3 separate regions of the Homo sapiens genome follow, and regions 2 and 3 are each linked to region 1. The links come from fine-mapping of genetic effects on gene expression. A gene starts in region 1. Each other region holds a variant in brackets. All regions are shown on one strand. Distances are between the middles of the regions. Region 1 holds the start of CERS3 (ceramide synthase 3). Region 2 holds the start of LOC102723335 (a long non-coding RNA gene). Region 3 has its middle 21 kb from the start of CERS3.

What was found. PIP is the estimated chance that this variant, and not a neighbour inherited with it, causes the effect.
Region 2: its variant is the best candidate, but not a certain one, in a credible set for the expression of CERS3 in whole blood (TOPMed, PIP 0.55).
Region 3: its variant is the best candidate, but not a certain one, in a credible set for the expression of CERS3 in whole blood (TOPMed, PIP 0.72).

What each region holds. Positions count from the first base shown.
Region 1 is chr15:100,526,683-100,532,510 of GRCh38, forward strand. CERS3 (ceramide synthase 3) reads right to left here and starts at 2,268. Exons shown (of 12, transcript NM_001378789.1): 1 at 2,131-2,268.
Region 2 is chr15:100,555,267-100,561,094 of GRCh38, forward strand. LOC102723335 (a long non-coding RNA gene) reads left to right here and starts at 3,400. Exons shown (of 3, transcript NR_135693.1): 1 at 3,400-3,556; 2 at 4,047-4,179; 3 at 4,369-4,533. It also overlaps the pseudogene PRKXP1 and the pseudogene RNU6-181P. The variant C/T (reference allele first, on the strand shown) is at 3,572.
Region 3 is chr15:100,547,439-100,553,266 of GRCh38, forward strand. It overlaps the pseudogene PRKXP1 and the pseudogene RNU6-322P. Among named protein-coding and RNA genes, the nearest start is that of CERS3, 21 kb to the left of the region's middle. The variant A/G (reference allele first, on the strand shown) is at 3,360.

The DNA of each region.
Region 1 (5,828 bases):
CACAAAGTGATTTCCCAAGAAAGTACACTAGGATATAAGGAACAAGTACCAGTGGAAAGGCAACTCCCTGAGGGCAGGGACTTGTCTGCTTTGTTCACTGGTGATACCCCCAATCCTAGAACAGGATCCAACATGTCAAGAGCATGAAGAAATCACTGCAAAATGGGGAAATGAATACTGTTTACCAAGGGCCTACCCTCTGTCAGGTCCTATGGAAGGCATTTGACATACCCTGCCTTTTTATGTCTTATAATAAACAACCTCGTTTGATGGATGTTATAATAATTATTTTATAAATAAGGAAACTGAGATTTGAAGAATTGCACTGAGGCCAGGTGTGGTGGGTTATGCCTGGAATCCTAGTACATTGGGAGGCTGAGGTGGGCAGATCACTTGAGGCCAGGAGATCGAGACTAGACTGACCAACATGGCGAAACCCCCATCTCTACTAAAACTACAAAAAAATTAGCTAGGTGTGGTGTCACATGCCTATACTCCCAGCTACTTGGGAGGCTGAGGCACGAGAATCGCTTGAACCCAGGAGGCAGAGGTTTCAGAGAGCCAAGATCATGCCACTGCACTGCAGCCTCAGTGACAGAGCAAGACTCCATCTCAAAAAAATAAAAAAGGAATTTCAGTGACTTGCCAGGGTCATAGTTAGTAAGCAGGATGCAGGAATTTGAATTTTGATCTGTCTTTCTAGTCAATGTTCTGTCCACCACACCAAGCCTTCCTCCAACAGCAGAAGCAGGTGATAGATTGATTGATTGATTTTGGCCTTTTGTTATAAGACACCAAATTCGAGTATTTGAATATTATCATAGCTTCAGGAATCCCTCCACACAAGGACCCTGTAGGGGGTTAATGGAATAGAATGGGAATATAGAATGAGCTGAAATCATATATCTTAGTGTGCAGAAATGCAATAAAGCTGTGGCTTTCTCACATCCCTACTGTACCACTGTAAATCTCACTAAGCCTCAATTCCTCGTCTGAAAGTGGCGTATCATGAGCCCTAAAGGGGAAAATGCACGTACACACAGCAAGGACTTAGTAAATGTAGATTATTATTAGCCCAGAATGATCTTCAAACTTATGTAAATCAATTTGATTGATATTTTAGAAAAAGGCAGAAATATTGTGAATGAGAGGGCCACATAATTATTACCTTTTTGAACATATACATATTTTCTCTTTAAAGAACTTTTTATCCAGAAATTCTACTGAAGAAATTATAAATGGAAACCCCTTTTAAGAAAAACAAAAGGCTTGTAGGGGGGAAGGCAATGAAAATGTGAAGTTTAAAGTCAAACACTCACTTAAGGTAGAGAAGGCACTTGAACATTGTGGGTTAATGAATAAATTAAAATTCATTATCTGGTCAGCCCTAAAGCTTTATTTCCCTTGTTTTGTGTAAAGGTTTCAAAAAAATAAAAATGCTTAACAGAACATTCTTGCTAAACATTTGCTTGGATCAGAAAAAGTAGTTTGATTTTGTTTCACTTTTCTGCATGAGACTGGCAGCCTTAGAACCGAACAGCTAATTTCTCCTGGCATGACATTGAGCACTACATCTCTCAAGACAGAAGCAGCTTAGGAAGGCCTGCCACTGTGGGGTGAGCAAGTCCCACCTTGTTCTCAGCTTAAGGCACTCTGGGATGGTCTGAAATGGCCTTTGCCACCTGGCAAAGATCTGTGCTGACCCCTTTCATTCCACCTGGATTCAGGGCTTTCCTGATAAACCAAGCTATGCTGAGCATTCAGCCGTGTGTGATTTCACTGCCCAGACCTTTCTTCCTAACCCTCAATGAATCAGTTTAAACTCGCCCGAGAGCAATGCAGGTCAGGAGTGGAAGTTTGGACTCGAAATTTACCCTCTACTACTAAACACTTCCAAGCAAAACTCTACAAAGCAAAGGGCCCCAAGTCTGTCTTTTCTGTATTTCTCCCAAACATCAGACCAAAAATGAACATTTCTTCATTTGTCCGCCTCTCCCCCAATCTCCATCTCCTCTCCCTCTCTGTTACGCACCCAGGCACACATACACACACAAGCTCACACGCGGAATCACGGCCACCTTGGTTTTGAAAGTCCTCAAATACTAACCACATCCATGGGATGGCGCCTACCTTTCTGAAATGTCAGTCCACAAAAGGTGCCCCTTGCTTGTGAAGTGTAGTCAGAGAGCAGCTTCCAACGTTCCAACCAGCTTCGTTCTCCTCAGAGAGCAGCACAACTCATCTCTGTGTAAGACCTGAAATTCCTTCAGAGACCCACCCTCCAAAGTTGCGAGTCAAGATTTCTGACTGAGGGCAGTCAGTGACGTGAGGCGAAGCTACTGGATGGCACCCTCAGGTTCTTCCTGATGGGATGTTGCTTCCTGTTTCACCACCTTGAGAAAAGAAAGCTGGAATTCAGTGAGACATTGAGTTACAAATGCATCAGTTGCCTCATCGTTGTTGCCTTTTGGTGCACACAGTCATCTGTCAACTGCTGAACAGGATGATCTTGCTGTTTGTATTAAAAGGAAAGGGCTTATGCGCAGAGAGAACCCCAAAACACCAGTCACAACCCTGTACTGTCCTAGGAGCTGGTTCGACAAGTATAGTACTCTCCAGAAAACAGGCAGGGCTTCTTACTAACTAAATCACCACCATGCCACAAAACTCATCCACTAAGGAGCATTGGTCCACAGGAATGTGATTTCTCTGCCCGCTTCCTAGGAATTGAGAAAACGATCAGTTTTTTGAAGCATATAACTGCCAAAAAATACAATAGTCTGGCAATCTTTTCTTCTTAGAACAGTCAGATATAATTCGCATTTTTATTTGTTTGTCTCTAAGAACAATCATCATAGACAAAGACAGACAAGCTCATTAGTATCAGGAAATAAACATTGTTGCTTGTCTCTGTGTGCTTGAACCACTACAATTTCAAAGGCAAGTGTGGATGCATTTTATAGTGTTTATTTGAGATATTGTACCTTTGAAGCCATTTTCACTTTCTCTTGCCTGAAGATGAAACAACTCTGGGCTTGGATTATTTAAAGGTGCTCTGACAAGTAGAGAGCTTCAACAAGTTGATTCCTGTATCTCTCACAAACCAAACATCAGCAGTACCGCCCACACTGAGAGCCTGATTCTCATTAGCTGTCTTCAACTGCTGAAAGACATTTTTCTTTTTTCATCAGCTAATAGATGACCGCAAATTAAAAATGGACTAGATGCAGATAAAGGGAAACACCAGTTTCAAATTCATTAAAGCTCCAAAGTTTCTCAGATTTCACTAATGAATTTAGTTCAAAGAGAGAGGATTGATAAACGCCCTTCCTTTCACTGGGTACTTCTCACTCAGGGCTTCCCGGTCTGCCTTTCTCTTCGAAGACGTTCTGTTTTTCAGTAATGGGCTCATGCATTTTTAAAACCATCTGGCAGAAGGGATGAATTTAAAGCAGACTTGGCCACTAACCGAGGTAGGCTCAGTTCAGGTCTGCCTCACCTTCTGCCAGGAGACCACTGCAGAATTGGTTTCCTGACATGAGGCTTCCATCTTCATCCAATTGTCACCTAACTCACATTCCCATTCTCATTTCTTTTTCTTCTGCTGATTAAACTCTACCAGCCACCTTCTACCTATAGGATCAAGACCAGACTCCTTGGCACAATGGCCTGCTCGCAACCTGCTGCTCCAGGACTTCCTTTTGCCCTTTCCCACTAGATTCCAGACACAACAGTGGGCAGCTTCTGGGCCCTTGCCATGAGCTGCTCTCTCGCCTCTGTGCCTAATGAAAGTCTGAATCCTGCTCAAGCTTCCCTAGCCTCGGCCCTCTCTGTTCTGTGGGTATACCTTTATTGCAACACCTACTACTCTATCACAACTTAACTGATTTTTGTATCTGCTTCCCCACTACTTTGGGAATCCTCACTGGACAAGCCTTAGATCTCTTTCTACCCCTGGAGCTCAGCTGTTCAATACTGGTCAAACAATTAGTACCCAAAATAGTGATCATCCAACACTCATTTTCACTCCGGGGATATCTCGGGAAAAGAATGTCCTGAACCCTATTTTGGACTCTCTTACTCAGAATTAAACAAGCCAAAAGAATATTGGGGAACCAGGCTGGGAACAGTGGCTCACACCTGTAATCCCAGCACTTTGGGAGGCCGAGGTGGGAGGATCCCTTGAGGTCAGGAGTTTGAGACCAGCCTGGCCAACATGGTGAAACCCTATCTCTATTAAAAATACAAAAAATGAGCTGGGCATGGTGGTGGGCGCCTGTAATCCCAGCTACTCGGGAGGCTGCGGCAGGAGAATTCCTTGAACCCAGGAGACAGAGGTTACAATGAGCCAAGATCACTCCACTGCACTCCAGCCTGGGTGACAGAGTGAGACTCCTGTCTCAAAAAAACAAAAAACAAAAAACAAAAAAACCAATATTGTAGAACCACATGTTTTCATGCTTTGTTTTAGTTACTTCTACAATGAAACACATGTTATTTGCTGATAAAATATAATGTTCAAATCAAATCGGAACTATTTAGACATAGTTCTATAACTCCTGTTAATCAAAAGAACCCCGTCAGCATCTGCTGTCTTTTTTGAGTCACTGTCAAGGTGTAATTCTTCCCCCTTCTTCAGGGGCAAGATGTAAAAATGAGGCTATTGCACAACTTGTGCTAGAGGAATGAGAGTGAGGAACTCGGAGGGTTTGCTGGTGAAGACTTTGTGGGAGCTGTGGGAGTGAGGAACTCGGAGGGTTTGCTGGTGAAGACTTTGTGGGAGCTGTGGACCTATGTGTAAGTCTAGTCATCTCCACAGCTCCTCTGAGGAAAATAACCCAGGGCAGGAAATAGGCTGTGTGTGGAGTTGAAAACAAAGCAAATATGGTTATCTCAAGGATTCCTAAGGTGATTCCTTTTTTCTTCTCTTTCTTACTTGTGCCTCACCATAAATGTATCAGTGCATTGCTAAGAGAAAAGATAGAACCCCAGGAAGCATTAAAGGAAAGAGCAAGATGCATGCACGTGGGTATCATTTCTCCTAGGTAGTACTTAGCTGTTTCCTTTTATGAGAAAACGGAAGCAGTGAGTTGAGACATTAAATCAGTTTTATATTGCGAATCCTCATTAATAGATATTAAATCACTTATTAGCATGTTAATGATTCATTGCATTTTAAAAAGTGAACGTCGGACCTCTGACAAATGAAATGTAGACAATTAAGCATGACAGTGGAGAGGTGTTGTCGGGAGCAGTAGGGGTGCATTACAAAGCGGGTACCGGGTGCCTTTCACCTAGTAAATTGGGAAGGAGAGGGATAGGAGAAGTGTAGACCAGAGACAAACCCAGTCAAGGTTCTGGAGAGCCACTTAGGAACTAGAAGAGGAAAACACAGTAAGCCGGATGCAGGAAAATTGAGTCTGGGCGCCAGCAGCAAGACACAGTGCCAAAAGCTCTCCTAGCCAAGGGCAGAGGTCCCACAGTTGCATGGGTGTAGATGGGGAAGAAGGGGAAGCGGGCAACTTCTAAGCTGCATTTTATGCTTTCAGCCGATCCTTAACCTAATTTCGTAGAGAAGAAAACGTAAGAATCAACAGGCTTTTCCCTCAAAGGAAGGAATCCCTTCCAAGAAACTTAACATATACAGTTTTTGCCCTATTGTTCTTAACCTAACCGGCAAAATTTTTGAGATTTTACTATCAACAAACTGTTTTCTTCTCATGTTTTATCTTATCATTTTCATAGACGTTTCAAATGCTATTTGTCCACAGACAGAAATTTAAGTCAAAATGCTACCAAACTGCCAGGTGCGATGGCTCATGCCTGTA
Region 2 (5,828 bases), 29 kb after region 1:
CTTCCAGACGCAGATGAGGAACGGGCGGATGACCTCCTTCCGGACGCAGATGAGGGACGGGCGGATGATTCCTTCAGGACGCAGATGAGGGACGGGCGGATGACTTCCTTCCAGACGCAGATGAGGGACGGGCGGATGACTTCCTTCGGGACGCCGATGAGGAACGGGTGGATGATTCCTTCAGGACGCAGATGAGGGACGGGCGGATGACCTCCTTCCGGACGCAGATGAGGGACGGGCGGATGACTTCCTTCCAGACGCAGATGAGGGACGGGCGGATGACTTCCTTCCAGACGCAGATGAGGGACGGGTGGATGATTCCTTCAGGACGCAGATGAGGGACGGGTGGATGACTTCCTTCCAGACGCAGATGAGGGACGGGTGGATGATTCCTTCCAGACGCAGATGAGGGACGGGCGGATGACTTCCTTCAGGACGCAGATGAGGGACGGGCGGATGACTTCCTTCCGGACGCAGATGAGGGACGGGCGGATGACTTCCTTCCAGACGCAGATGAGGGACGGGCGGATGACTTCCTTCGGGACGCCGATGAGGAACGGGTGGATGATTCCTTCAGGATGCCGATGAGGGACGGGCGGATGACTTCCTTCCAGACGCAGATGAGGGACGGGCGGATGACTTCCTTCGGGACGCCGATGAGGAACGGGTGGATGATTCCTTCAGGACGCAGATGAGGGACGGGCGGATGACTTCCTTCCAGACGCAGATGAGGGAGGGGTGGATGATTCCTTCAGGACGCAGATGAGGGACGGGCGGATGACTTCGTTCCAGACGCAGATGAGGGACGGGCGGATGATTCCTTCCGGACGCAGATGAGGGACGGGCGGATGACTTCCTTCCAGACGCAGATGAGGAACGGGCGGATGACTTCCTTCAGGACGCAGATGAGGGACGGGTGGATGACTTCCTTCCGGACGCAGATGAGGGACGGGTGGATGACTTCCTTCTGGACGCAGATGAGGGACGGGTGGATGATTCCTTCTGGACGCAGATGAGGAACGGGCGGATGACCTCCTTCCGGACGCAGATGAGGGAGGGGTGGATGATTCCTTCCGGACGCAGATGAGGGACGGGTGGATGATTCCTTCAGGACGCAGATGAGGGACGGGCGGATGACTTCCTTCCAGACGCAGATGAGGAACGGGCGGATGACTTCCTTCAGGACGCAGATGAGGGACGGGCGGATGACTTCCTTCCGGACGCAGATGAGGGACGGGTGGATGACTTCCTTCGGACGCAGATGAGGAACGGGCGGATGATTTCCTTCCAGACGCAGATGAGGAACGGGCGGATGACCTCCTTCAGGACGCAGATGAGGAACGGGCGGATGACCTCCTTCCGGACGCAGATGAGGGACGGGCGGATGACTTCCTTCGGACGCAGATGAGGGACGGGTGGATGATTCCTTCCAGACGCAGATGAGGAACGGGCGGATGACCTCCTTCCGGACGCAGATGAGGGACGGGTGGATGACTTCCTTCCGGACGCAGATGAGGGACGGGCGGATGACTTCCTTCCAGACGCAGATGAGGGACGGGTGGATGACTTCCTTCCAGACGCAGATGAGGGACGGGCGGATGATTCCTTCAGGACGCAGATGAGGGACGGGTGGATGACTTCCTTCCAGACGCAGATGAGGAACGGGCGGATGACTTCCTTCGGGACGCCGATGAGGAACGGGTGGATGATTCCTTCAGGACGCAGATGAGGAACGGGCGAATGACTTCCTTCGGGACGCCGATGAGGAACGGGTGGATGATTCCTTCAGGACGCAGATGAGGAACGGGCGGATGACTTCCTTCGGGACGCCGATGAGGAACGGGTGGATGATTCCTTCAGGACGCAGATGAGGGACGGGTGGATGACTTCCTTCCAGACGCAGATGAGGGACGGGCGGATGACTTCCTTCCAGACGCAGATGAGGGACGGGCGGATGACTTCCTTCCAGACGCAGATGAGGGACGGGCGGATGATTCCTTCAGGACGCAGATGAGGGACGGGCGGATGACTTCCTTCCAGACGCAGATGAGGGACGGGCGGATGACTTCCTTCCAGACGCAGATGAGGGACGGGCGGATGATTCCTTCAGGACGCAGATGAGGGACGGGTGGATGACTTCCTTCCAGACGCAGATGAGGAACGGGTGGATGACTTCCTTCGGGACGCCGATGAGGAACGGGTGGATGATTCCTTCAGGACGCAGATGAGGAACGGGCGGATGACTTCCTTCGGGACGCCGATGAGGAACGGGTGGATGATTCCTTCAGGACGCAGATGAGGGACGGGTGGATGACTTCCTTCCAGACGCAGATGAGGGACGGGCGGATGACTTCCTTCCAGACGCAGATGAGGGACGGGCGGATGACTTCCTTCCAGACGCAGATGAGGGACGGGCGGATGATTCCTTCAGGACGCAGATGAGGGACGGGCGGATGACTTCCTTCCAGACGCAGATGAGGGACGGGCGGATGACTTCCTTCCAGACGCAGATGAGGGACGGGCGGATGATTCCTTCCGGACGCAGATGAGGGACGGGCGGATGACTTCCTTCGGGACGCCGATGAGGAACGGGTGGATGATTCCTTCAGGACGCAGATGAGGAACGGGCGGATGACTTCCTTCCAGACGCAGATGAGGAAAGGGCGGATGACTTCCTTCAGGACGCAGATGAGGGACGGGCGGATGACTTCCTTCCAGACGCAGATGAGGGACGGGCGGATGATTCCTTCCGGACGCAGATGAGGGACGGGCGGATGACTTCCTTCCGGACGCAGATGAGCGACGGGTGGATGACTTCCTTCCAGACGCAGATGAGGGATGGGCGGATGACTTCCTTCCGGACGCAGATGAGGAACGAGCAGATGACTTCCTTCCGGACGCAGATGAGGAACGAGCAGATGACTTCCTTCCAGACGCAGATGAGGGACGGGCGGATGACTTCCTTCCGGACGCAGATGAGGGACGGGCGGATGACTTCCTTCCGGACGCAGATGAGGGACGGGCTGATGACTTCCTTCCGGACACAGATGAGGGACGGGCGGATGACTTCCTTCCGGACGCAGATGAGGGACGGGCGGATGATTCCTTCGGGACGCAGATGAGGGACGGGCGGATGACTTCCTTCCGGACGCAGATGAGGGACGGGCGGATGACTTCCTTCCGGACGCAGATGAGCGACGGGCGGATGACTTCCTTCCGGACGCAGATGAGGGACGGGCGGATGACTTCCTTCCGGACGCAGATGAGGGACGGGCGGATGACTTCCTTCCGGACGCAGATGAGCGACGGGCGGATGACTTCCTTCCGGACGCAGATGAGGAAGGGATTCCTTCCGGACGCAGATGAGGGACGGGCGGATGATTCCTTCCGGACACACCTCTCAATGTGCACGTGCTGCTCCTGCCAGGCGGATGACATCAGGAATGCTCATCAACTTGAGGGCGAAGAAATGCTTGGCGGTCTTCTCCTTCACCGGGTGCACCCGCCCGAACGTCCCAGTGCCCACGGTGGCCAGTGTGTCGAAGTCCTGCAGGCGGTGGGCAGGCGGCTC[C/T]GGCGACCAGGCCTTGGGGCTGGGGCAGAATGCGGGTGCCCAGCCGGGGGTCTCCTCCCACACCTCTCGGGGGTCGCTCTCCGCCACGGCCGCCTGGGCCAGTCGGGGCTCCTCCATGCGGACACACTCAGGTCCGGGGCACCGGGCCAGGCCGGAGCGCTCGGGTAGCCGGGCTTCCCGGGACGCAGCCTCGGAGGGCGGCGTGGTGGTGGCATCAACGGAGGCTCCCCATGCGTGCCCTCGCCTCCCAGCGCGCGGCCCGGCGCAGCTGACAACGCCCCCGGGTGGGAGCAGCTGCCGGCCTCGTCGGGGGGTGGGCACTGAGTGCCGCGCAGCAGCGGGGAAGATGGGGCCCGTGGCCCAGGCTGTGGGGGCAGGGAGGGGGCCCTGCGCATTCCCAGTCTCGCGCCCGCCGCCTCCTCCAGCTTGGTAGCCGCCAGCGTGCTCTACGGTGTTTTTGTTTGTTTTTTACCAGCTGATTCACAACTCAAGTAGCACAGTGAAGGTGGACAATTTGGACTGCCTAAGCATCCCAGCATCGTCTGTTCTACATATCACTATTCCAAATGGCATGCTGCTGTGTTTGTGAATCCAGCCTCCCACATTGGGTATGTCACCATTGGCCTATAACAACTGGAATGACACATCTTCACTAGAGGCAGGCCTTGGCCATCCTCCACAGCAGACTATTGAGTAACAAAATAAGCAGTACTATTTATTTACTTCTTACTATGCTGTTTAAAAAAAAAGCCTCTGATGAAATCCTGGTGGCTTCTTCTCTGTTCTTACCAATCCAGGAAGTGTAGAGAGCTGTTGAGCCCTGTTTCCAAATCCCCAGGTGAAGCTGCGCTGACATGCCTTCTGTCCATACAGCCCTTTCCAAGACTCAGCTATTTGTGATCACCCCCAAATGTTACCCTGATTCTATTACCAATTTGTAATAAAACTCACTTGTATGGTGGAAAGGCTGTTGCCAATTAATTTTATTTTCGTCACCCATTTTCCCTTCCATGTAATCGTCAAATTGTTTATTGTACATATTAAAAATGACACACAATCAAGAGGGCATATGCTATATTCAAGCAAAGAATGCTATGTGAGCCACGCGTGGTGGCTCACGCCTGTAATGCCAGCACTTTGGGAGGCCAAGGGGGGTGGATCAATTGAGGTCAGGGGTTTGAGACCAGCCTGGCCAACACAGTGAAACCCCATTTCTACTAAAAATACAAAAAAAAAAAATACCCGGACATGGTGGTGCACGCTTGTAATCCTAGCTACTTGGGAGGCTGAGGCAGGAGAATTACTTGAACCCAGGAGGTGGAGATTGCAGTGAGCCAAGATTGCACCACTGCACTCCAGTCTGGGCAACAGAATGAGATGCCATCTCAAAAAAAAAAAAAATGCTATGCGATACAAAAATGATGTACTTGTCAATAGTCCAGTGAGTCAGGGGAACCCTTTCTCTTTATTGTGGAGAAAAATAGCACAATCAGAAAAAAAATTAAAAGATAATTTTCAGGAAAACTGACAGTTAAAAATCCAATTCTGTTTTACACAAGTAGTCTTTTGTGTTTTGCAGAAAAACAAATATCTGTTGATTTGGAGATGGACAATATATGGTCCTTAGCAAATAAAAGAAGTTTAGCTGTGGGGAAACCTGCACTTCCTCATAATTTATTGAATAGCTTAAAAAGATGTCATCAGCAATTATAAGTGTGCTTCTGGGGTGCTTACTTCACAGGCCTCAAAGGGAGAAATGAGTCTGACAGGAGGCTTGAGGCACTTAAAAAACACACAGACATTCTGATTGCCACCCCTAGAAAGTGCCTTTTTTTTTTTTTAAAGTTACAAAATATGAAATGCTTCATAAATTTACATGTCATCCTTGAGCAGGGGCCATGCTAATCTTCTCTGTATCATTCCAATTTTAGTATATGTGCTGCCAATATAAGCATAGAAAGTGCTTTTCAGATGGCCAGGCACAGTGGCTCATGCCTGTAATCCCAGCACTTTGGGAGGCCTAGGTGGGCAGATCACCTGAGGTCAGGAGTTAGAGACCAGCCTGACCAACACTAAGAAACCCTGTCTCTACTAAAAATACAAAATTAGCTGGGTGTGGTGGTGCATGCCTGTAATACCAGCTGCTTGGTAGGCAGAGGCAGGAGAATTGCTTGAACCCAGGAGGTGGAGGTTGTGGTGAGCCAGGATAGTGCCATTGCACATTTTTCAGGTAAAACCATGCTTCAACTCTACTGCC
Region 3 (5,828 bases), 21 kb after region 1:
GCTGAGACTGAATTGTTTGAACCCAGGAGGTGGAGGCTGCAGTGAGCTGAGATTGTGCTACTGCACTCCAGCCTGGGTGACAGAGTGAGACTTGGTTTCAAAAAAAAGAAAGGCAATGATTTAAAGCAGATATATTTTCCAAATAACTATAAGAGAGAAATACAAATCACTAACAATCCATATGCAACCCAAAAGAAAACAAAGGAAACACTACAATAAAATGACAAATATGTAATTTATGACAAGAAAAATTATTTAAGAGGTTACACCTATGTATGTTTTACTTTAATAAAAAGGAAGAAGAGGCAAAAGCTTGTCACTTGTGTTTGTAGTATAAAATTCATTTATTATCTGCTACTTATAAATAATCAGACCAAAGAAATTACACCAAAAGGTTTAGACTAAGAGTCACATAATGTAGCGGTGGAACCTCAAAGCCTGGCCTTGGATTATCCCAGTGCACTTTCCTCTACATGCTACAGTTTTTTTTTTCTTAAAAGATACAAAGCTTTATTAAACAAACCTGGAATCAACATTATTACATAAATTAGACTGCAGTAAAAATTTCCTAGGGCATATATACAAATCACAGTGATTTCCATGGTGCAACAAACAGACAAGATTAAAAATAGGCACTCCCCTCCCCGACCCCCCATGAGAAGGCGAGATCACCCCACAGGGCTCCCAGTTCCAGCTCGCCAAGGGGTGCACAAACCTGCAAAGGCACTCTGCTTGTGTGCATGGCATCTGGCAGCAGTCACAGGGGCCCCAGAAGCACATTGACAACATGGTGAGGCTGCCCAGTGTTCAGCACAAAAAAAGAATTCAGCTACGACAGCTGAGCAGAGCTCAACAGCCATCTCAGAGCACAAGGACTGTGGAAAGGCTTCAATTCCCATCCGCTAAAACACACATGTAATGCCTTGTACATACAGAACAGATGTGTCCACCATGGAAGATCAAACTAAGCATCAACAGAACTTCCCAACACATGATAATTTACAGAGAACTGTGACAGGGCATCCTCCTTTTATTAGCAAGGACTGTTCTGCTGGGTGTAAGGCCATAAAGTTTGCAAAGCAAACTTGATTATGAAAAGGCTTGGTGAGAACACGGCCCCCACCTCCACCAAGACACACACACACACGCACACACCCCAAATAAATTATCCAAATGCATTAAGACACCTGTTCTTGTGCTTTTCTTCTTGCTTTTGTTAGGTGAATCCCGTCCGTTTAAGTTAGACTAATTAGAAGGCCTTCTTGCCTCCATCAGCAACAGAGAAAAACAGTGCATAAGACTCCTCCAATGTGTGTAAAATGCATGCTAGGTAGGTTGAAGGAAAAACGAGAGGAACCCGGGCACCCCATTTCAAATCTCTACAACTGGAGAAATCAAAGGCTGCAAGGACTGTGTAGACCTGATGCAAAGTTAACTGGCTGCAAAAATACAACCCAAGCCAGTGCTGTCTTGCACCCTGTTCACTCAGTAGCTGGAGCAATGAATGATTGTGACATTCTGGTGTGATATTTGTGCAGCCTGAGGTACACCCTGGCTACAGAGTTGAGCCTTGGGGTCTTTAACAGTATTAAGCCATGGTTTCACAGTTACAGTGGTCCAAAGAACTAGAGGCCATGTAGGTCAAACACAGAAATGGCGAACACATCCCAAACCACTCAACTGTTTAGTTCCACTGGTGATTTTTTTTAACGGGTAGTGATTTCAAATGATTTGGTGGGTGGTTTTTTGTTTTGTTTTGTTTTTTCTTTTTCTTCAGAGCAAACAAATGATTTGGTCTTTAAGTATGGAGAGAAAAAAACAAAACGCTGAACGAGAAATTCACTAACAAGTGACTGTGCAGTTGTTTGAGGGCATGGAGAGGGAATGGGGTTGACAGCATTTTGAGGGGATGAAGTGCACGATCTTACCCCACTGCTGGGGGGTTTCTGATTCTTATTCTATCATGCTGACAGCAAATATAATTTGCCCATCGCTGGCTATAGATATGTTTAGGCTAAGCAGGATTTAGACTTCTGTTGGGAAGGAATTAGAAGAATTCAGTAGAGACAGTGTATACTATTTGGTTGTGACTTTATTTTCTTCCTGGTTTTATCAATGCCTATGAAAGCAGGCTGGTGGCTTTTCCCTTGAGAAAAACAAGACTTGCCCCACTATACTTCCTATTGTGGCATATCCATTTCCTAAAGATATTATCTTATAGTGTTCCAATTTAAGAAAATACTTCCAACTCATAAAATTACATGAAACAAAGTACATTTGTAATTTTTTTCTGATACAAATTTTGTGATTATCGTGATGAATTTTCCTCCACATTTAGCACAGTGATTGTTTCACGTGATCATCTATGCGGAAATTTTGGAATGCCCACCCAGATAAACTATTTTTATTTTTATTTTTTGAGATGGAGTCTTGCCCTGTCACCCAGGCTAGAGTGCAGAGGCACAATCCTGGCTCATTGCAGCCTCCGCCTCCCGAATCCAAGCGATTCTCCTGCCTCAGCCTCCTGAGCAGCTGGGGCCACAGGCACCCACCAGCATGCCTAATTTTTGTAGTTTTAGTAGAGATGGGGGTTTCGCCATGCGGGCCAGGCTGGTCTCGAACTCCCAACCGTGGGTGATCTGCCCACCTCGGCCTCCCAAAGTGCTGGGATCACAGGCGTGAGCCACCATGACGGGCCAGGTAAACTATTTTAAAATTATACATAGTGATTGTTCTATGTTTATAGCTCATTTTGATTAAATTAACCTCTACAGGACATTGGGCCATTTAAACTATGACCCCGCCATGGGGCAGTTACCAGGTAGCCTGTCTCACTTCAAATGTTGAAATGTGCATGATGGTCAAAAGTGGGTTTCACACCATCACACGTTCTTGGAAGTGCTTCTAATTTCTCATTTGTTCTGTATGGCTAGAGGCTGATTACAATGTCCGTAAAGAACAAGGTCATCAATGTGCTTTGCATATTTCATTTTCATGCATATCTGTTTGTTGCGGGAAGTCAGGGACCCCAAACGGAGGGACCGGCTGAAGCCATGGCAGAAGAACGTGGATTGTGAAGATTTCATGGACGTTTATTAGTTCCCCAAATTAATACTTTTGTAATTTCTTATGCCTGTCTTTACTGCAATCTCTAAACATAAATTGTAAAGATTTCATGGACACTTATCACTTCCCCAATCAATACTCTTGTGATTTCCTATGCCTGTCTTTAATCTCTTAATCCTGTCAGCTGACGAAGATGTATGTCACCTCAGGACCCTGTAATAATTGCATTAACTGCACAAATTGTACAGCATGTGTGTTTGAGCAGTATGAAATCTGGGTACCTTGAAAAAAGA[A/G]CAGGATAACAGCAATTGTTCAGGGAATAAGAGAGATAGCCTTAAACTCTGACTGCCGGTGAGCCAGGCGGAACAGAGCCATATTTCTCTTCTTTCAAAAGCAAATGGGAGAAATATCGCTGAATTATTTTTCTCAGCAAGGAACATCCCTGAGAAAGAGAATGTGCGCCTGGGGGTGGGTCTCTGAACTGGCCCCCCTGGGCGTGGTCATCTCTTATGGTCAAGACTGCAGGGGTGAAATAGACCTCAGTCTCCCATAGCGCTCCCAGGCTTATTAGGAAGAGGAAATTCCCGCCTAATAAATTTTGGTCAGACCGGTTGATCTCAAAAACCCTGTCTCCTGATAAGATGTTATCAATGACAATGGTGCCCGAAACTTCATTAGCAATTTTAATTTCGCCTCGGTCCTGTGGTCCTGTGATCTCACCCTGCCTCCACTTGCCTTGTGATATTCTATTACCTTCTGAAGTACTTGATGTCTGTGACCCACACCTATTCGCACACTCCCTCCCCTTTTGAAAATCCCTAATAAAAACTTGCTGGTTTTTGTGGCTTGTGGGGCATCACGGAACCTACCGACATGTGATGTCTCCCCCGGACGCTCAGCTTTAAAATTTCTCTCTTTTGTACTCTGTCCCTTTATTTCTCAAGCTGGCCGATGCTTAAGGAAAACAGAAAAGAACCTACGTGAATATCGGGGCAGGTTCCCCAGTATCTGTTCACAATTAAGGCAAGGCATTTCAGGCTTTTCCTGATGCTAATTTTCATCTCAGTATGAAATCCTGGATTACAAAACAGGCAACCTAAAAATAGGCATTTTTTAGTACATGGACTTATGGGTCTATGTACTTTTTAAAGTGTGCTCAAGAATAGTGTTTCATTTATGGTTTTATTAATAATTTTTAAAGCAGAATTTTCAACAATATTATTACTATGATTTATTTTTATAGTCAGCAAACACGAGACTTCATGCTCTTCCTTCTAGCTGCACATCTCGGTGCACAGTGTAACCTTTTTTAAAAAAAAATATGGAATGCGGCATGAATCTGGATCTTCCTTGCACAGGGGGCCATGCTAATCTCCTCTGTGTCATTCTAATTTTAGTATACCTGCCGCTGAAGTCAGCACCAGTTTCACCTTTTCACATTCACGGTAAAAATTATGGGAAACTGCATGTGAAATGTTTAGAAAATGATGGCCCTCAACTGTTAATCCCAACAGGATGGTGACTGAGACACACAGGCTGAAAATACAGCTGTCTAAAACATTTCCACATTTCATCATCTGAACATCATTTTCCACTAAGTTATTAATTGTAAAGACTTTATTCTACTGAACCTACTAATTATTCTCACCTGCTGAGTTGACCACCACGTGAAGAAAAGGTCATTAATGAAAAAGGGTGGCTATGTTCTGTTTCTGCAGTTTCACTGTGTTTTAACATTTTTTTCCTTTTATAGAGATGGGGTCTTGCTATGCTGCCCAGGCTGGTCTCAAACTCCTAGGCTCAAGCAATCCTCCTGCCTTGGCTTCCCCAAATCCTAGGATTACAGGAGTGAGCCACTGCACCCAGCTTCATGGTCTTTTAAAGCCTTAAGGTGGATGTGTCTTCATTCCACCTTTCATTCCACCTTCAAAAGCACAAAGCCATTGCCTTTTTTTTTTTTTTAATTTAGACAGGGTCTCACTCTGTCACCCAGGCTGGAGTGCAGTGGTGTGATCTCGGATCACTGCGGCCTGGACCTCCCCGGGCTCAAGTGATCCTCTCATTTCAGCCTCCCGAGTAGCTGAGACTATAGGCAAGCGCCACCATGCCCGGCTAATTTTTTTGTATTTTGTAGAGAGATGACATCTCACCATGTTTCCCAGACTGGTCTCCAACTCCTGGGCTCAAGCAATCCACCCACCTCAGCCTCCTGAAGTGCTGGGACTACAGGAACAAGCCACTGCGCCCAGCTTAGATGAAATTTTTGAATGTGACACAGGTTTTTTAAATACAGTATATTCCTCCAACAACTTCAATGTCATTGTAGATTCTTGGAATAAATTCACTCCCATATCTTCTTCTCTTTGTTTCTTCTTTTAAAGTCTCAAGTTACCAGGTAGGAAGCACTAAAGATACTGAAGATGGACCTCCCCATGATGTTTTCTTCACCCAAACTAAAAAATGCATGTGAGATGATTTTTTTAAATCCATGCAACAGACCCTTCAGATGTTGTCCCCAAGAGAAGAGATTTTTGAAAAAACAAATTGAAAAATAAAAATTATAGGCTCTGTGAAGTATGAACATTTACATCATTGCACAATTTCTGTGGATCTGCCATAATGACTTCTATATATACACACAGGCGCGCGCATGCACACACACACACACACACACACAATTTGTGGTTATAATTGAACAAGTCCAGTTCAAACTTATAAACTTAAGTCTATGAGAAAAACCAAGACATCACAGTAGGAACACA